Regions from separate parts of the Homo sapiens genome. Here all the other regions are linked to region 3. Evidence: fine-mapped expression QTL. A gene starts in region 3. Each other region holds a variant in brackets. All regions are shown on one strand. Distances are between the middles of the regions. Region 1 has its middle 7.9 kb from the start of MXRA8. Region 2 overlaps MXRA8 (matrix remodeling associated 8). Region 3 holds the start of INTS11 (integrator complex subunit 11).

The links. PIP is the estimated chance that this variant, and not a neighbour inherited with it, causes the effect.
Region 1: its variant is the best candidate, but not a certain one, in a credible set for the expression of INTS11 in whole blood (INTERVAL, PIP 0.72).
Region 2: its variant is the best candidate, but not a certain one, in a credible set for the expression of INTS11 in tibial artery (GTEx, PIP 0.62).

Annotation. Positions count from the first base shown.
Region 1 is chr1:1,363,029-1,369,925 of GRCh38, reverse strand. It overlaps a transcript of MXRA8 not described here. Among named protein-coding and RNA genes, the nearest start is that of MXRA8, 7.9 kb to the right of the region's middle. The variant ACTCATTCAATCACACT/T (reference allele first, on the strand shown) is at 3,483.
Region 2 is chr1:1,351,031-1,357,592 of GRCh38, reverse strand. It overlaps MXRA8 (matrix remodeling associated 8), which reads left to right. Exons shown (of 10, transcript NM_032348.4): 2 at 889-912; 3 at 1,841-2,143; 4 at 2,248-2,349; 5 at 2,441-2,911; 6 at 3,084-3,239; 7 at 3,361-3,400; 8 at 3,487-3,563; 9 at 3,665-3,745; 10 at 3,964-4,902. The coding sequence ends at 3,989. Among named protein-coding and RNA genes, the nearest start is that of MXRA8, 4.2 kb to the left of the region's middle. RefSeq lists enhancers at 525-1,077, 2,202-2,832, 2,833-3,464, 3,465-4,096. The variant G/A (reference allele first, on the strand shown) is at 4,502.
Region 3 is chr1:1,319,887-1,326,783 of GRCh38, reverse strand. It overlaps INTS11 (integrator complex subunit 11), which reads left to right and starts at 2,124. Exons shown (of 17, transcript NM_017871.6): 1 at 2,124-2,203; 2 at 5,691-5,788; 3 at 6,255-6,328. The coding sequence starts at 2,176. CPTP (ceramide-1-phosphate transfer protein) reads right to left here and starts at 1,982. Exons shown (of 3, transcript NM_001029885.2): 1 at 1,682-1,982. RefSeq lists silencers at 1,526-2,025, 2,206-2,335 and enhancers at 3,154-3,663, 4,427-4,935.

The sequences.
Region 1 (6,897 bases), 43 kb before region 3:
CTCGGGAGGCTGAGGCAGGAGAATGGCGTGAACCTGGAGGTGGAGCTTGCAGTGAGCTGAGATCATGCCACTGCACTCCAGCCTGGGCGACAGAGCAAGACTTCGTCTCAAAAAAAAAAAAAGTTATGCTTGTACGTGGCTAGTTTAATTGTTTAAGAAGTCACCAGCAGGCGCAGTGGCTCACGCCTGTCATCCCAGCACTTTGGGAGCTGGGAGCATCGCATGAAGCCAGGACTCCAAGAGCAGCCTGGGCAACATAGTGAAACCCTGTCTTTACAAAATAAAAAATCAGCTGGGCATGGTGGTGTGTACCTGTAGTCCCAGCTACTCCAGAGGCCGAGGTGACAGGATGCATGAACCCAGGAGTTCGAGGCTGCGGTGAGCTGCCGTTGTGCTAGTGCCCTCCAGCCTGGGTGACAGAGCGAGACCCTGTCTCCAAAAAGAAAAAAGATTCCTTTAAGAAAAACAGTTGGCTGGGTGCGGTGGCTCACGCCTGTAATCCCAGCACTTTGGGAGGCCGAGGTGGGTGGATCACCTGAGGTCAGGAGATCGAGACCATCCTGGACAACATGGTGAAACCCCATCTCTACTAAAAATACAAAAAACTAGCCAGGTGTGATGGGCGGCTGTAGTCCCAGCTACTCGGGAGGCTGAGGCATGAGAATGGCGTGAACCCGGGAGGTGGTGCTTGCAGTGAGCCGAGATCGCACCACTGCAGTCCAGCCTGAGGGATAGAGTGAGACTCCATCTCAAAAATAAAGGAAAACAGTATCTCTTCCCCCATCCCCACACCACCTTTCCCAGAGGCAATTTTAGTCCTTTTAAATGATTCTTGCGGTAGTACCATGTTTTAAAGTTGGTGACTTTCAGACCTTTTTTTTTTTTTTTTTGAGACAGTATCTCACTCTGTCCCGAGACTGGAGTGCGGTGGCGCGATTTCAGCTCACTGCAACCTCCACCTCCCAGGTTCAAGCAATTCTCCTGCCTCAGCCTCCCTGCTAGCTGGGACTACAGGCATGCACCACCACGCCCGGCTAATTTTTGTGTTTTTATTAGAGACAGGGTTTCACCATGTTGGCCAGGCTGGTCTCAAATGCCTGACCTCAGGTGATCTGCCCGCCTCGGCCTCCCAAAGTGCTGGGATTACAGGCGTGAGCCACCACGCCCAGCCAGACCTATTTTTATTTTTTAAGAGGCAGGGTCTCCCTCTGTCGCCCAGGCTGCAGTGCAGTGGTGCCATTATAGCTCACTGCAGCCTGTAACTCCTGGGCTCAAGCCAGCCTCCCAAGTAGCTGGGGCTACAGGCATACACCACCAGGCCCAGCTAATGTTTTTTTCCAGCAGAGATGGAGTCTCACTAAGTTGCCCAGCCTGGTCTCAAACTCCTGGCCTCAAATGATCCTCCTGCCTTGGCCTCCCAAAGTGTTGGGATTATAGGTGTGAGATACCACACCCAGCCTACTTTCAGACTTTTTTGATCAAGATACAAAATAAGAAATATCTTTTTACACCGCTATCTGATGAACACACCCACCATTGAAAGTTGTACAGAATAGTATCTCTCATAAGTACAATAAACTGAGATATTGCCTATTCTAGTCTTGCTGCACCTTCCTGCCTGTAATCCCGCACTTCAGGAGGCTGAAACAGGTGCATTACTTGAGCCTGGTAGGTCAAAGCCAGCCTAGGCAATGGAGCAAGACCCCATCTCTACAAAAAAAAAAAAAAAAAAAAAAAAAAAAAAAAAGCCAGGTGTGGTTGTGCCCACCTATGGTCCCAGCTACTCAGAAGGCTGAGGTAGGAGGATCACTTGAGCCTGGGAGGTTGACCTGCAGTGAGCCAAGATCGCACCACTGCACTCCAGCCTGGGCAACAGAGTGAGACTGTCTCAAAAATAAAAATGAAAAAGACCGGGCGTGGTGGCTCACGCCGGTAATCCTAGTACTTTGGGGCACAGAGGTGGGCGGATCATGAGGTCAGGAGATCGAGACCATCCTGCCTAACACGGTGAAACCCCATCTCTACCAAAAATACAAAAAATTAGCCAGGCGTGGTCGCAGGCGCCTGTAGTCCCAGCTACTCGGGAGGCTGAGGCAGGAGAATGGTGTGAACCCAGGAGGCGGAGCTTGCAGTGAGCCGAGATGGTGCCACTGCACTCCAGCCTGGGGGACAGAGTGAGACCCCGTCTCAAAAAATAAATAAAAAATAAGTTGCTCCTGATCCACTGAACTGAATTTACACTAATTCACACTCACCAGTTCACATTCACCAATTCATACGTGCCAATCCACACCCATCCACACTCATTCATACACTCACTCAACAATTCACACCTATCGACATTCACCAATTCACACTCATCCACACTACACACACCAGTTCAACTCACCAATTCACTCACCAATCCACACTCATTCACACTCGCCAATCCACACTCATTCATACACCAAGTCACACTCATCCACGCTCTAACAGTCACCAATTCACACTCATCCACTCATTCACACTACACACAATTCAACTCACCAATTCACTCAATTCACACATCCACAACCAATTCACACTCATCCACACAGTCACCAATTCACTCATCCACTCATTCGCACTACACACACCAATCCACACATTCACACTCACCAATTCACACATTCACTCTCACCAATTCACACATCCACACTCAACAGTCACCAATTCACACTCATCCACACATCCACACTCATCCACACTACACACACCAATTCAACTCACCAGTTCACTCACCAATCCACATTCACACACTCACCAATTCACACTCATCCACACTCGCCAATTCACACTCATCCACACTACACACACCAATTCAACTCACCAATTCACTCACCAATCCACACATTCACACTCACCAATTCACACATCCATACTCGCCAATTCACATTCATCCACACTCATCCACTACACACACCAATTCAACTCACCAATTCACTCACCAATCCACTCATTCACACAATTCAATTCACACCAACTCACCAATTCACTCACCAATTCACACTCACCAATTCACACCAACTCACCAATTCACACTCACCAATCCATTCAGACACCAATTCACACCCACGCTTTAACACAGTCACCAATTAACACTCATCCACACTACTTCACACCAATTCACTCAGTCACCTGTTTACTCTCATCCACACGCTTATTCACACTACACACACCAATTTACACTCACCAATTTAATTCACCCATCCACACATTCACACTCACCAATTAACACCCATCCACACTCATCCACACTTCACACCAATTCACTAATTCCCACTCATTTACACTCATTTCACACTCGTTCTCACACTAATTCATATTCCTTCACACCCATCCACACTCACCCACATTCACACTCACCAATCCTCACTAATCAATTCACTCACTCACCCTTTCACACCCATCCACACTAATCCACTCATTCACACATTCACACTCGCCCATTCACCCTAATTCAC[ACTCATTCAATCACACT/T]CATTCACATTTATTCACATTCACAGTCACCAATCCAGTCATTCACCCATTCACACCAATCCACTCATTCACACCCATTCACACATTCACACACCCATTTACACACACCAATCCACATTCGTTCACACTCATTCACGCACACCAATCCATTCACACTCATTTACATTCACACTCGCCCATTCACACATTCACACTCGCCCATTCACACTCATCAGTTCACACTCATCCACTCATTCATTCTCTCACCCATTCACATCCATCCACTCATCCACACCACTTCACACTCACCAATTCACTAATTTACACACCCGTTTACACTCATCCACACCACACAATTCACACCAATTCACAAATGCACAATCACCAGTTCACACCCATCCACACTCATTCACACACAGTCTCACGAATTCACACCCATCTGCACTACTTCACACTCACCAATTCACTAATTCACACTCAATTTATAGTCATCCTTTCACAATCATTCTCACGCTCATACTCGTCCTCCCCTCCCAGGCTCAGGCCATCCTGTCACAGCCTTTCCTAGCTGGGATCACAAGTGTGCACCACTACACCTGGCCTAATTTTTATTTTTATTTATTTTTTTTGAGACAAAGTCTTGCTTTGTCACCCAGGCTGGAGTGCAATGGTGCAATCTCAGCTCACTGCAACCTCTGCCTCCTGGGTTCAGGCGATTCTCCTGCCTCAGCCTCCAGAGTAGCTGGGACTTCAGGCGTGCACCATCATGCCCAGCTAATTTTTTTATTTTTATTTTTATTTATTTATTTATTTTTGAGAGGGAGTTTTGCTCTTGTTGCCCAGGCTGAATACAATGGCACGATCTCAGCTCATCGCAACCTCCGCCCCCTGGGTTCAAGTGATTCTCCTGCCTCAGCCTCCAGAGTAGCTGGGAGTTCAGGTGCCCACCACCATGCCCGGCTAATTTTGTATTTTTAGTAGAGCTGGGGTTTCTCCATGTTGGTCAGGCTGGTCTTGAACTCCCGACCTCAGGTCATCTGCCCACCTCAGCCTCCCAAAGTGGTAGGATTACAGGCATGAGCCACCATGCCCAGCCTTATTTTTGTTTTTTATTTTGTTTTTGAGACAGAGTTTCACTCTTGTTCCCCAGGCTGGAGTGCAATGCTGCAATCTTGGCTCACCTCAACCTCCATCTCCCAGGTTCAAGCGATTCTCCTGCCTCAGCCTCCCGAGTAGCTGGGATTACAGGCGTGCACCACCATACCCGGCTAATTTTTGTATTTTTAGATGGGATTTCTCCATGTTGGCCAGGCTGGTCTTGAACTCTCGACCTCAGGTAATCCGCCCCCACTCAGTGTCCCAAAGTGCTGGGATTACAGGGGTGAGCCACCACGCCTGGCTTTTTTTTTTTTAATATAGAGTCTCACTCTGTCACCCAGGCTAGAGTGCAGTGGTGTGATCTTGGCTCACTGCAACCTCTGCCTCCTAGGTTCAAGAGATTATCCTGCCTCAGTCTCTTGAATAGGTGGGATTACAGGCATATGCCACCATCCCCAGCTAATTTTTGTATTTTTAGTAGAGATGGGGGTTTCACCATGTTGGCCAGACTGGTCTCGAACTCCTGACCTCAGGTGATTTGCCTGCCTTGGCCTCCCAAAATGCTGGGATTATAGGGGTGAGCCTGGCCTTATTTTTTTATTTTTGACTGGGTCTTGCTATATTGTCCCGCCTGGTCTCCATAATCCTGGGCTTAAACCTCCTGCCTCCACCTCCCAAAGTGCTGGGATTATAGGAGTGAGCCACCGCACCCAGCCGATTTTTCTATCATAATTGCGTACATCAAATTTGTAATTATAACCAAGGTAGAAATGTTACATGTAACAGCCGACCTCCCTTGGTGAGGAGGGAGAAGCCACCACGGAGGATCCAGGATGTGCATTCCATGTGGCAGCCGTGGCCTGGCCCTCGCCTGAGGCTGGTGTGACAGCTGCCCTAAGACGTGCCCAGCCGGGAAGGGAGGCGGATGCAGAGTCCCAGAGGTGGAGTCTGACCCTGCAGGTGGAGCCACCGCAGGTAACTGGCAGCACTCAGTGTTCTTTGTTCCCGATTTTAAAATTGATCAGGCATGGTGTCTCACACCTCTAATCCCAGAACTTTGGGAGGCCGAGGTGGGTGGCTCACGAGGTCAGCAGTTCGAGACTAGCCTGGCCAACACATTGAAACCCCGTCTGTACTAAAAATACAAAAATTCGCCGGGCGTGGTGGCTCATGCCTGTAATCCCAGCACTTTGGGAGGCTGAGGCAGGTGGATCACAAGGTCAGGAGTTTGAGACCAGCCTGACCAACATGGTGAAACCCTGTCTCTACTAAAAATACAAAAATTAGCTGGGTGTGGTGGTGCACACCTGTAATCCCAGCTACTCCAGAGGCCGAGGCAGGAGAACTGCTTGAACCCGGGAGGCGGAGGTTGCAGTGAGTCGAGATTGCGCCACTGCACTCCAGCCTGGGCGACAGAACGAGACTTCATCTCAAAAAAAGAGAAAAAAAGCCGGGTGCAGTGGCTCACGCTTGTAATCCCAGCACTTTGGGAGGCTGAGGCGGGTGGATCATGAGGTCAGGAGATCAAGACCGTCGTGGCTAACACGGCGAAACCCCGTCTCTACTAAAAAAAATACAAAAAATTAGCCAGATGTGGTGGCGGGCGCCTGTAGTCCCAGCTACTCGGGAGGCTGAGGCAGGAGAATGGCATGAACCCAGAAGGTGGAGCTTGCAGTGAGCAGAGATTGCGCCACTGCTCTCCAGCCTGGGCAACAGATCGAGACTCCATCTCAAAAAAAAAAAAAAAAATTAGCCAGGCGTGGTGGCGGGCACCTGTAATCCCAGCTACTCGGGAGGCTGAGGCAGGAGAATAGCTTGAAACTGGAAGGCAGAGGTTGCGGTGATTCTGAGATTGCACCACTGCTCTCCATCCTGAGCAAAAGAACAAAACTCTGTCTCAAAAAAAAAAAAAGAAAAAACTGATGGATCTCGCCTGTAATCCCATTGCTTTGAGAGGCCGAGGATCGCTTGAGGCCAGGAATTTGAGGCTGCAGTGGGCCAAGATGTTTGCACCACTGCCCTTCAGCCTGGGTGACACAGTGAGACCCTGTCCTTTTGTTTTGTTTTTGAGACCGAGTCTCACTCTGTCGCCCAGGCTGGAGTGCAATGGCACAATCTCGGCTCACTGCAACCTTTGCCTCCCAGGTTCAAGCAGTTCTTCTGCCTCAGCCCTTGGAGTAGCTCGGACTACAGGTGCACACCACCACACCCGGATAATTTTTGTATTTTTAGTAGAGATGGGGTTTCACTCCTTTCTTTTTTTTTTTTTGAGACGGAGTCTCGCCCTATCACCAGGCTGGAGTGCAGTGGTGCAATCTCGGC
Region 2 (6,562 bases), 31 kb before region 3:
TCAGGTGATCCACCTGCCTTGGCCTCCCAAAGTGCTGGGATTACAGGCGTGAGCCACCATGCCTGGTGGGGGAGTTTTAACTGGTGGGTTTAAGGCAAGCGGCACGAGCCCCGTGGGGCCACGCTGACTGTGGGGGGACTCCGTGGTGCAGCTGCACAGTCCATGTGGGGCGTGGGGTCTGTGGGGACACAGGGGGTGGTCACCAGGGGACAGTGCGTAGGGCGGGCGTCTGGGTGGATCAGCTCGAGGACGGGGGATGTGAATTGGAAACTGTCCCGGGTGGCAGCCCCGCTTCCGGTCAGAGAAAGTCCAGCCTAGATTCAGAGTGGATGCCGAGGCGGCCTACGACAATGAGAGTCCCTCAAGCAGCAACGCGGGCCTGTGGGGCGGCAGCCGGGGTCACGACCCACATTCAGCCTTCAGGCCTCTGCCCTGCGGAAGCACCTCAGGGGCTGCGCTGAGCCTTAGGTGTGGTGTGGGGTCCCCAGCGTCTGAGGGTCCAAGGACCCTCGGGGGCTGGGGCACAGCCCTGGAGGGAGCGTGGGGGAACCCACAGATCCAGCCTCCTTGGTGCTCTGGGTGACTTGGGTGCAGCCAGGTGGAGTGGCCCCGGTGACAAGCACACACCCCAGAACCGGCTGGCTTGGAGCCTGGCCCTGGCCCACGCCCATGCCCTGGCTTCCCCACTCAAGGGCAGGTGCCATCCAAAGCCCAGCACGGTGGCAGGGAGGGCTATGTAGGTCTGTGTGAGAGGCGTCCTCCCTGCACTGAAGTGGGTGTCACAGCATCCACTTTGGGACTACAGGAGGGACTCTGGGGGCCAAGTGGGGGGTCTCGGGGCTGGGTGGGGCTGTGGGTGGCCTCTCCAGCTCACTCCTCTCCTTCCAGGCTCTGCTGTTCTCCTGCACTCAGGTTAGTGACCCCAGCCCCAGCTGCCCACCCCCACTCCCCCTCAGCCCCTCCTATCTTGCCAGGCCCAGCCCCCGGGGGTCCTCAGGCCCTGCCCCTCCCCCACTGATTCCCCCTTGCTCATCAGGACCCTTGGGCACCTCCCCTTGCCAATAACTCCCCCTCCCCCAATGACTCCTCTTCCCCTACCAGGGCCCTTGGGGGCCTGGCCCTCCCCCACAGACTCCCGCACACCCACCAGGGCCCTCGGGGGCCCACCCCTCCCCCACAGATGCCCCCACTGACTCCCCTTCCCCAACCAGGGCCTTCGGGGTCTGCCCCTCCCCTACTGAGTCCCCTTCCCCACCAGGGCCCTCGGGGCCCACCACTCCCCCATGGACTCCCCATCCCCCACTAGGGTCCTTGGGCCCCATGTCTCCCCGACTGACTTGCCCTCCCCCATGGACTCCCCCTCCCCTGCCAGGGCCCTCGGGGGTCCACCACTCCCCCAATGATTCCCCTTCCCCCACATGGGCCCTAGGGGGCATGCCCCTCCCCCATGGAATCTCCCCCACCACGAGGGGCCTCAGGGGCCCACACCCCCCCAAAGATGCCCCCAACCCCGCCAGAGTCCTTGGGGCACACCCCTCCCCCAGTTACTCCTCCTCCTCCACCAGGGTCCTCAGAGCCCGCCCCTCCCCCACTGATTCACCCTCCCCCATCAGGACCATCAGGGTCCGCCCCTCCCCCAGTGACTCCCCCTCCCCTATCCAGGCCCTCGGGGGTCTGCCCCACCCCACGGACTTCCCCTCCACCACCAGGGCCCTCTGGTCCTGCCCGTCCCTTACAGACATCCCTCCCCCACCAGGGCCCTGCCCCTCCCCCACTGACTCCCCCAACCAGGGCCCTAGGGGGCCCACCCCTTCCCCCACCGACTCCCCTCCCCCACCAGGGTCCTCGGTACCCGCCGCTGCTGGCAGCTCCGTGGTGTCCGAGTCCGCGGTGAGCTGGGAGGCGGGCGCCCGGGCGGTGCTGCGCTGCCAGAGCCCGCGCATGGTGTGGACCCAGGACCGGCTGCACGACCGCCAGCGCGTGCTCCACTGGGACCTGCGCGGCCCCGGGGGTGGCCCCGCGCGGCGCCTGCTGGACTTGTACTCGGCGGGCGAGCAGCGCGTGTACGAGGCGCGGGACCGCGGCCGCCTGGAGCTCTCGGCCTCGGCCTTCGACGACGGCAACTTCTCGCTGCTCATCCGCGGTGCGGGGACCGGGGACCGGGGCCGCGGGGTCGGGGCAGGGGTCCGGGGCCGCGGGGTCGGGGGCACCGCAAGGCTCACGCGCGGCTTCCTCCTGGGTGCGCAGCGGTGGAGGAGACGGACGCGGGGCTGTACACCTGCAACCTGCACCATCACTACTGCCACCTCTACGAGAGCCTGGCCGTCCGCCTGGAGGTCACCGACGGCCGTGAGTGCTTCCCCCCCGCCCCCCAGCTCCCGCCCCTCGACCCTCGACCGCCGCCCCGGCCCGCGCGCCGCTGACCGCGCCCCCTCCGCAGCCCCGGCCACCCCCGCCTACTGGGACGGCGAGAAGGAGGTGCTGGCGGTGGCGCGCGGCGCACCCGCGCTTCTGACCTGCGTGAACCGCGGGCACGTGTGGACCGACCGGCACGTGGAGGAGGCTCAACAGGTGGTGCACTGGGACCGGCAGCCGCCCGGGGTCCCGCACGACCGCGCGGACCGCCTGCTGGACCTCTACGCGTCGGGCGAGCGCCGCGCCTACGGGCCCCTTTTTCTGCGCGACCGCGTGGCTGTGGGCGCGGATGCCTTTGAGCGCGGTGACTTCTCACTGCGTATCGAGCCGCTGGAGGTCGCCGACGAGGGCACCTACTCCTGCCACCTGCACCACCATTACTGTGGCCTGCACGAACGCCGCGTCTTCCACCTGACGGTCGCCGAACCCCACGCGGAGCCGCCCCCCCGGGGCTCTCCGGGCAACGGCTCCAGCCACAGCGGCGCCCCAGGCCCAGGTGAAGGAGGCCTCCCTGGGACCCGGGAAGGCGGGAGCCCACCCCACCGGGGGTTGCTCTGCGCCCGCTGTCCCTTGCCCGAGGCCCGCGGATCCCAGCGGGGGCCGTGGCCCGGGTCGGGGCGCAGGTCTTGCTGGTACCTGACGCCGCCCCGACCCCGCGTTCCCCGCAGACCCCACACTGGCGCGCGGCCACAACGTCATCAATGTCATCGTCCCCGAGAGCCGAGCCCACTTCTTCCAGCAGCTGGGCTACGTGCTGGCCACGCTGCTGCTCTTCATCCTGCTACTGGTCACTGTCCTCCTGGCCGCCCGCAGGCGCCGCGGAGGTGAGGCTGCCCCGGCAAAGCCAGCGGCCCCAGGAGACTGAGGTGGGCGGGAGGGTGGTCCTCTGGGCTGGGGGACCTGCGGAAGGGGCGGCACTGCCCCCAATGTGAGTCTCCTTCCCAGGCTACGAATACTCGGACCAGAAGTCGGGAAAGTCAAAGGGGTGAGTGCCCCCCTCCCGGCCCTCCTGGGGACCAGGGCCCCCTTCACCCCACCCAGCTGTAACCTCCTCCCACCCTCGCCATCCAGGAAGGATGTTAACTTGGCGGAGTTCGCTGTGGCTGCAGGGGACCAGATGCTTTACAGGAGTGAGGACATCCAGCTAGGTGAGGCAGTGCTGGGACACGAGGGCACAGGCGCGGCTCCCAGTCCCGGGCTGGGAAGTGCATCCTGGGAGCGGGGACCTCAGCCTCCTCTCCTCCCACAGATTACAAAAACAACATCCTGAAGGAGAGGGCGGAGCTGGCCCACAGCCCCCTGCCTGCCAAGTACATCGACCTAGACAAAGGTGAGCGGCGGGGGCGACCTCAGCCCATCTCAGAGCCCTGCCTGTCCCCATTCCACCTCACCTGGGACCAACGATGGCAGGCACCAGCCAGGCCCGGGGCCCCTGCCACCTCAGGCTCAGAAATCCCTGGGGAGTCCTGCGGGGGGGTCTGCCCTGTGTCTCCCACTGTGATGAGGGTGGAGGACAGCCGCCAACCCGTTGGCGCCCTTGGCTTCCAGGGTTCCGGAAGGAGAACTGCAAATAGGGAGGCCCTGGGCTCCTGGCTGGGCCAGCAGCTGCACCTCTCCTGTCTGTGCTCCTCGGGGCATCTCCTGATGCTCCGGGGCTCACCCCCCTTCCAGCGGCTGGTCCCGCTTTCCTGGAATTTGGCCTGGGCGTATGCAGAGGCCGCCTCCACACCCCTCTCCCAGGGGCTTGGTGGCAGCATAGCCCCCACCCCTGCGGCCTTTGCTCACGGGTGGCCCTGCCCACCCCTGGCACAACCAAAATCCCACTGATGCCCATCATGCCCTCAGACCCTTCTGGGCTCTGCCCGCTGGGGGCCTGAAGACATTCCTGGAGGACACTCCCATCAGAACCTGGCAGCCCCAAAACTGGGGTCAGCCTCAGGGCAGGAGTCCCACTCCTCCAGGGCTCTGCTCGTCGGGGGCTGGGAGATGTTCCTGGAGGAGGACACTCCCATCAGAACTTGGCAGCCTTGAAGTTGGGGTCAGCCTCGGCAGGAGTCCCACTCCTCCTGGGGTGCTGCCTGCCACC[G/A]AGAGCTCCCCCACCTGTACCACCATGTGGGACTCCAGGCACCATCTGTTCTCCCCAGGGACCTGCTGACTTGAATGCCAGCCCTTGCTCCTCTGTGTTGCTTTGGGCCACCTGGGGCTGCACCCCTTGCCCTTTCTCTGCCCCATCCCTACCCTAGCCTTGCTCTCAGCCACCTTGATAGTCACTGGGCTCCCTGTGACTTCTGACCCTGACACCCCTCCCTTGGACTCTGCCTGGGCTGGAGTCTAGGGCTGGGGCTACATTTGGCTTCTGTACTGGCTGAGGACAGGGGAGGGAGTGAAGTTGGTTTGGGGTGGCCTGTGTTGCCACTCTCAGCACCCCACATTTGCATCTGCTGGTGGACCTGCCACCATCACAATAAAGTCCCCATCTGATTTTTAGACTTGTCCCAGGTATGCTTCTGAAACTCCGTCTCCTGGGGCTGGGCAAGGCATGAGTCTGGGCCTGGGAGTCCTCGTCTCCACCTGGAACCCCTGACATCATCCCATTCCTTGGGCTGAAAGGTCTGGGTCTGGGTCCTCTGGGAGTCGGTGTCCTGGGAAGGGGACCTTTGAGCTAGTTCTGTGTGGCTTCTGGTCGTGGAGGAGTTCAGATTCCCTTGAGGGCTGACCTGGACGTGAGGAGGGGGGACGTGGTGGTGGCTGTGAGGCCAGAGGGAAGGCCGTGGGAGCACAGCTCTTGGAGAGGCAGAGGGACGAGGAGCGGGAGTAGTGGGATGCGGGTCAGACACTTGCAAAGGGGGCGGGAGCAAAGAGGCTCCAGCAGAGACAGCCCGGGACAGCAGGGTGGTTCCAAGAGTCTTGGCCAGGCCAGCACGGATCTGGCCCTAGAATCCTTTCCCGCTCAGGCATCAGCTGGTTGGGTGCAGGATCTCAGCACAAGTTCAGGCGGTGGGAGGAGTGGCGGGAGCAGGAAGGCCCGTGGCCCGGGGTCCTGGCAGCACAGACCAGCGACTAACTGCTGCTTCTTGAAGCTGGCGTCACCACCCAACCCCATCCTCCAGTCCTCCCAGGACAGTGGGGGTGGGAAAGGGTGACAGTTGCCCACAAGGACCCCACACAAGCATGGATGGGGAGGGAGGGAGGCTGGTCTGGGGAGGTGTGGCTTGAAGATGCACCCCCCTCCCAGCCCGGTTACCTCTGGCCTCACCAGTGGCCACACCTGTCAGGGCCCCAGCTGGACCACATCCGCGTCAGCAACGGGACTGGCCTCAGGCCTCTGGCTTCCAGCCTCTCTTGAGACCTAGCCTGGGGTCAGGCCCTCAGGGCAGGGACAGGCTTCCTCCCTCCCTGGGGCCTCAACAGATAGCCCCTCTTAGGTCTTCCTGCCTGGCTTCTGACCTCTGGGGAAGAGAAGGGCTGCGGGAAGGTGGAGGGGGCTGGCGGCTAAGCTGTCCGGGCTTGGCTGAGCAAACGCCACAGTTCTCCCTCTCAGAGCCCGGGTGCAGGGTCAGGATCCCAGGCCCAAGCTGACCGTCAAGCACTGGTGCCTGCACTGATCGGTTTCTTTCCGAGCCGGTGCAGCCCCCAGCACGGTCAGGGCCCGATAGATGCCAGTTCCATCTCGCCGGCTTCCTGGGGACGGGAACCAAGGGACCCCACCGCACTCTCTTCCCCATCGCTCCAGCCCCGTCCAGGCCCCCTCCTCACTCCCCCCGTCGCTCCTGCCCCGTCCAGGCCCCCTCCTCACTCCCCCCGTCGCTCCTGCCCCGTCCAGGCCCCCTCCTCACTCCCCCCGTCGCTCCTGCCCCGTCCAGGCCCCCTCCTCACTCCCCCCGTCGCTCCTGCCCGGTCCAGGCCCCCTCCTCACTCCCCCCGTCGCTCCTGCCCCGTCCAGGCCCCCTCCTCACTCCCCCCGTCGCTCCTGCCCCGTCCAGGCCCCCTCCTCACTCCCCCCGTCGCTCCAGCCCCGTCCAGGCCCCCTCCTCACTCCCCCCGTCGCTCCTGCCCCGTCCAGGCCCCCTCCTCACTCCCCCCGTCGCTCCTGCCCCGTCCAGGCCCCCTCCTCACTCCCCCCGTCGCTCCTGCCCGGTCCAGGCCC
Region 3 (6,897 bases):
ACTCATGCCCCTCATGGAGCTTCCTCCCAGGAGCTGCCTGGCTCTGCTCCCAGCCAAGCCGCAGGCTCTCAGGCACACCACCCTGACCCACCCTTCATCAGGATTGCGCATTCAGGGACCTTGGCACAGCCCCTCCTGTGGATCAGGCCACTGACTCCGTGTCAGTCCCTGACCCCGAGAGTGGCCCCCTCTGGCTTTATCAGACCACTAGGCCCCGCTGTCTGCAGCAGGTGTCTCTGCTGGTGCTTTCTTGTTTTTGTTTCTCTCTCTAGATGCTGTATCTGCTTTTACCAGCTGGAGAAATACTAAGCCCCTGCCGAGAGCCAAGCACCATCCTAGCCATCTATCTGGGTGCATGGGGAGTGCGAGCAGCCATCTGGGGTGGGGTCAGATGACAACAAAGACAGGAAGTTCTGAAGTCCTAGACAAGAAAACAGACACAGCAGAAAGCAGAGACAGGTGGGGCCGGGGGTGGGGGGATGCTGCCGGGCAGGCTGCCCCATCTTCCTCACTGCTACATCCCCAAAAGCAGAAAAGAGGCTGTAGGGCTGGCACTTGCTGGATGGATGGACACGTGTTTTCACTCCTGTTGCTGAAACTCCATGTCCCACACAGATGGGTTTTACCACTCAGAAGATTGCCACGAGGCTCTTGTACTAGCCCTAGGGAGCCTTCCACGAGTGGCCCAGGCCCTGCTTTGGATTCTGCTGGCATTCACATAGTCACTCCACAGATCCACAGACATCCAGGCACCCATGCTTTGTGTGAGTGTTGCCAAGCACCCTTGCCCTGTCTCCCCGGGTGCCCCACGGGCCCGCACCTGCTCTGGGGAACCTGAGAGTCAGCTGCATTCCACCTCGACCAGGAAGAGGGCCTGGGGGTTCCTAGGCCGGTTGGTGCTGGGAGCCCTGTCCTGGCCTCCCTGGCTGCAGGGACTCCATCGGTGGGGGAGGGGGAAGGGCACCCAGCCGTGGTGAGAGCTCCTGGCCAGGAGCAGGTGGGCAGGTTGCTCAGCACCCTAGGACTGGGCCCTTCATCACTAGGGATCATGGGCTGCAAGCCCTGCCCAGCCCGTGGCCCAGGCTGCTGGAGCACTGGTGCCTGCAGGGTGCTGAAGCCTGGCGTTGCAGGCCCCACAGGTTGGGTTGCATGCTTGGCACCAGGCGGAGGCCCCAGATGTGAGCTCACCGGGCTTCAGGTGTGGGGGATGGCTGCTCCTGGGCCTCAGAAAGATGCAGTCCCATAGACTTCCAGCACGCCCCTCCCCTCCTCGGGCCTTAATTTTGTCCACTGAGAAGATGGTCTCTGAGGCTCTGGGGTTTCCTTCTTGGTCACCAGATATTCTGCGGGCCTTGCCTTCCTGCCCAGATTCGAGCCAGTGGCAAACAGAAGCTGCCAGGAGCTTCTCAGAGCTGTGGCTGGTGGCTCGGTAACAACAGGAAGGGCAGTGGCTGTGCAGGAGGCAGGCAGCTTGCCAGCCCAGGAAGGTGACCCAGGACACCTCCAGGCCTTTCCCAGGGCAGCCCAACGGCCCAAGGTCAGGGCCGGGCGCGAGGGCGGCCTGAGCACAGAGCACGGGGGCTGACAGCAGGCTGGGGGGCCAGCAGGAGACGGGGCCCCACGGCGCCCCAGGCCTTGTGGGTGGGACCAGACCCTGTCGAGCGAGCGCTACGAGTCTCACCTGGGAAGGGGGCTTCAGATGGCACCGGACTGGATGGGCACCGGTTCGGGTCCCTGCTCCACCGAGAGGCCCAGGAAGGGGCGGAGGCCCGGGGTGGTGTTGGGGAGGGGCCGACCTGAGCCACGGCTCCGTCCTGCGCGGGAGCCGGGTCCTCGGCCGCCCGCCCGCTCCGGCCCTCTAGGACGACGTCCCCTCCCGCTCCCGGCCCCTCGGCGACTTCCGGACCGTGCGGGTTGGGTTGGGCAGGTGCGGCCGCCGAGTCCGAGCCGCTCACCTAGGCCGTAGCCGCCGTGCGGGCCCCGTCCCCGCCCACCGCCCCGCCCTCGCCCCGCCCTCGCCCGCCGCCCTGATTGGTTGGATGCTGCCCAATCAGGAGGCCCGGCGCCCCGACCCGCGTTTCCGGCTAGCGCACCGGAAGTTGCAGCGAGGTGGTTGCGCCTGCGCAGTGCATCACCGCAGGCGGGCCTCGCGGGTCCGGGAGCGCGGCGGAGACGATGCCTGAGATCAGAGTCACGCCCTTGGGTGAGTGGGAGCCGCCGGGAGGGCTGTGGGGTGGGCTCCGTATGCGGCTCCGGGCGGGCTGGGCGCCCCGCTCCCTCCCGTTTCTCGTGGAGCCAGGTGCGCGCCGCGGGCGTCCTCCGGTCTCCTCCCCGCGCGGGCCCTGGTGGGAGCCGAGAGGCGGCCTAGTCCCTGCACCCCGGGCCTCCGGCAGTGACGCGAGAACGCGAGCCCCGAGGTTCAGGCGGCCGTGAGGGGACGTCGCAGATGGGGCCGCGGGGCCTTCGCGCTCGCTGTGCGCTTTCGTCGGTGCCTTGACCTCCCCGTGCCGCGCGCTGCCGCCTCCAGCCCTACCAGCCCTTCAGTCCCTTAGCCCCTCAGCCCCGCAGACCCTCAGCCCCCCAGCTCCCCAGCCTCTCAGCCTCCCAGCCCCTCAGCCCCCCAGCCCCTCAGCCCCCCAGCCCCCCAGCCCCTCAGCCCCGCAGACCCTCAGCCCCCCAGCTCCCCAGCCTCTCAGCCTCCCAGCCCCTCAGCCCCTCAGTCCCTCAGCCCCCCAGCCCCCCAGCGCTCCAGTCCCCCAGACCCTCAGCCCAGCAGACCCTCAGTCCCCCAGCCCCTCAGTCCCCCAGCCCCTCAGCCCAGCAGACCCCCAGACCCTCAGCCCCCCAGCCCCTCAGCCCCCCAGTCCCCCAGCCCCCAAGCCCCTTAACCCCGCAAGCCCCTCAGCCCCCCAGCCCCGCTTCTGCCTCCTCACGTCTTGCTTTCTGTCCACCACTCTGTGTGCTCACGCCCGAGTTACAATCAACTCTCACTTTAGCTCTTGTTCTACCTGATTTCTGCAACACTGAAAAAAATAGCAAAAAACGCAAATATGTACTCCTAAAAGTCCTGACAGTCTGGGCACTGTGGCTCACGCCTGCAATCACAGCACTTTGGAAGGCAGAGGTGGGAGGATCGCTTGAGCCCAGGAGTTCAAGACCAACCTAGCCAACATGGCAAGACCCCATCACTCCAAAAAAAAAAAATGCTAAAATTGGCAGGGCGTGGTGGTGTGTGCCTGTGGTTCAAGCTACTTGGGAGGCTGAGTTGTGAGGATTGCTTGAGCCCAGGAGGTTGAGGCTGCAGTGAGCCATGATTGTGCCACTGCACTCCAGCCTGGGTGACAGCAAAACCATGTCTCAAAAGAAAGTCAAAGTCGTAACAGTATAGAACGATGTGAAGAAGGAAAAAATTAGTCAAAATCCAGGGTCTCAGAAACAGCTGGAGGGACATGGTGTTGGTGGCCAGTCATCCTGATGTCCTTAGCGTTTTCCACAGGTGCCTGCCCTGTGCTGTCCTGGAACCTGGTCCTTCCACCGGGCAGGGGGTCGAGGGCACCTTCCAGCACAGACACCAGGACGGGATTCCATGTCCTCCCCCATGGCGTGAGCGCTTCCTCGGAGGGTGCCCCCCGCCCCGGTGTGGACACTGTGCTGTGAACACCCCTGGCCTGTGCACACCCCATGGCATTTTGCAGCTGTTTGCATGGGCCCCACTGCCCTCCCCTGCTCTCTGGGTCCTCCGTGGGGTCCTCCCAGCCTGCCCCTTTCCCATTTGGCCTCTTGGCTGCCTGTTCTGCCCACTCTCTGGACATCTGATCTTTCTGATCTTTCATGTGGCTTCAATTACCCGCAATCTGTACCTGGGTATATTCTCAAGGTCACCTCAGCCAAGGTATCATCAAAGCCGAAGTCCTGTTTCACCGCTTCCCTGCACCAGGGACTGCCTCGGGCTCCGTGTCCGCGCTCACTGGACCACTGCTGTGTCCTTGGGGTCACTCCCACGCCTTGGCCTGTGTGTGGCTACCCCCCCCGCCGCCGGTCCCCCTACCCACCCTGCCCATCCCTCCCCACCGCCGGTCCCCCCACCCACCCTGCCCGTCCCTCCCCCTGCTGGTCCCTTCCCTCCCCCCTGCCTGTCCCTCCCTGCTGCCTGTCCTCCCTCCGCCCGCCCCGCTTCTTCTCCTCCCCTGGACCATCCCTTCCCCACCCCGTCCCTCCCCCTCCCCCACCCTACCCCTCCCCTCCCCTGCTCAAAAGTTGGCTTCTCGGAGCAGTCTCCTGTCATGGTTCTGGAAGTTTTGAGGCTTCCTCATTCTCTCACCTTGCTCTTTTCTGTCATAGTAACCTTCGTCTGGCGTGCTTTGGGTGTCTTGTTTGTCTGCCGTCTGTCTCCTTGCTGACAGGGATATCTCCTCCTGTCTTCTGAGCCCTGTCCCCTCGTGTATCTCCAGGCTCTATTCCCGCACCTTTCCACTTTCCTTCCTGGGATCACTGTGGGTCCTGTCGGGAGGCGGGACTGCCAGTACTTCAGGACTGGGCTTTGGAATTCAGAAAACCAGCCCGGGCCCCATGCCTCGGGGCCGTGTGCCACAAGTGCCTCTGTGGCCTTAGGTCCCTGGGCATGAAGAGGGGCGGCCCTCCCTTCCCACAGGTGCCAGAGGGCCTCTGTGAGCCTGGCGTGGCTTGGGGTAGGAGATGCAGAGGGAGGAGACAGCTGAGACCCTGCTCTCAGAGAGCTCACACCCAGCGGGGGCAGGAACAGGCCTGGAAGAGAACCTGAGATCCCCTCTCTGTGGCAGGCAGCCCCTCGGCTGTGGCCCCGTCATCCTGATGTGTGGTGCTGGCTTTGGACACTTCGAGTGGCTGGCAGGGGGAGGTGGGTGGGATTCAAGGGGAAAACTGTTCACTGCCATCAGACTCCTGCCCAGGCACAGTCTGTGCAGGGGCCGTGACCCTTTCCTCTCGGGCCCCCAGGCCACATGAGGGGGCTGAGTGTGCCTTGGCTGGCCAAGGCCTCTGGCTGGAGCAGCTGGGCAGGGCTGCTTGGCTGTCAGGAGTGTGGGAGGGCTGCAGATGAGGGTCTGTGTTGGGGGCTGCATGGTGTGCAGTGGTGTGAGGCTCGTGTTGCCACGCTGGCCACTGCTGGACCACTGGCACCGTGTTCGCTATGGCATGGCTGAGGCTGTGTGGCGCCCCTCCACAGCCGCACCACCAGAGAACACCCAGTGCCAGCACTTAGTCACTTACTGCCTTGCCTGCCTGGGGAAAGATCCTGGAGAAGGTGGCCTCATTGGTTTGCAGCTCTGCTGGGGGTCCAGCCACAGCCCAGGAGTGACTCTGACCGAGGTGTTGGCCCCACAGACCAGCCGTTGTCTCTGTTGGAGGCTGAGGGCCACAGCACAGTGCCCACTACTTAGCCAGCAGGCCGTGGCCACCTTAAGAGGCCAGGGGAAGCTGGCGGGGGAGGGCGTGTGGGCTGCCAGCCTCCACCCTGGACATGATGGTGTGGGGCATGGTCCCCTGTGTCCCCCTTCCTGTGAGTAGGGGTGGCCCTGCTTCTTGGCCCATGTGTCTGTCCACACAGCAGACTTGGTCCGGTTTCCTCAGTGCACTGGGGTCCTGCAGAGCTTGGGGAGGCAGCACAGGGGGCGGGGGGCGCAGCAGTGACTCATCTGCCCTCCCTCGAGTAGGGGCCGGCCAGGACGTGGGCCGAAGCTGCATCCTGGTCTCCATTGCGGGCAAGAATGTCATGCTGGACTGTGGAATGCACATGGGCTTCAATGACGACGTGAGTCCCTTGGGCAGGAGGCCCAGAGGCTGGGAGAGCCGGCCATCCACAGCTGGACCCTGGGCCTCAGAGCCGGGACAGTGGGGTGGTGGGCAGCAGTGGTTGTGCTTGGATGGCTGCACCCTGTGGGGAGCAGGGATGGGTGGGCCTGGCCGAGGTGAGCCCCTGCATGGTGGGGTCCCCCTGTGCTGGCGCTGAGCCCCAGCCCCGGGGTCCTGTAGGCTGGACTCCGTGAGACCCTGGGCTCAGCTTCCAGCTCACATCTGTCAGTGAGGTTGGGGGTAACCTCGGCCCCTCCGGATGCTGTGAGCAGCCAGGGGTCCTGGTGCCACCTGCGGGATGGGAGTGCCCAGCCTGAGTCTGCACATAGAACCCCCCTTCCTGGGGGCCCCTCCCTGGGGCATGGGTGGCCCCAGATGCTGCCTGGAGACCACTGTGCAACCTGAAACCCCCACATCCTTCCTAGCGACGCTTCCCTGACTTCTCCTACATCACCCAGAACGGCCGCCTAACAGACTTCCTGGACTGTGTGATCATTAGGTGGGTTCCTGTTGGGGGCCTTGAGGGTCCCATGTCTGTGCCTGTGGGGCTTGGGCCACCTTGCTTGGTCTCGGCAGCGTTTGGCAAGGGGCCTGTGCCATCCTTGATCCTCAGGGGGCTTCTAGGCCCCAGGATCTGCTCCCTGCCTGCCTTACTGGTCACACACATGGCCTGGTCTCTGTCTGTTCTTCCGGCCCTGCCCTCTGAACCCTACTTTCTGAACCCGGCCCTCCAGGCTTCACCCTCTCTGATGCCTTCACTGTCTCAGGATCTTTAAACCCCACTGTCTTGTTGGCGATTCCAGAGTCCCGAGTCTGCCCTGACCCCAGCCTTTAGGGTTCAGCAGCTCATGACCCGCTGGTCTGGGTGGCCTCGTCTGGACGGCCACAGCACTCCTGCTGGCCCCCTGCCCTTCCCTGCCCTGTCCTCCCCAGCAGCCAGGCCCGTGAAGCCTGGAGAAGCCCCTTCTCCTCTCCGGAGGCAGTGTCCTCAGCTGCCCCTGAGCCCCTCGTGGTTGTGGTTTCTTCTCAGACACGGTGGGGTCCCCAGTGCCTTCCTGGGGCTTGCCA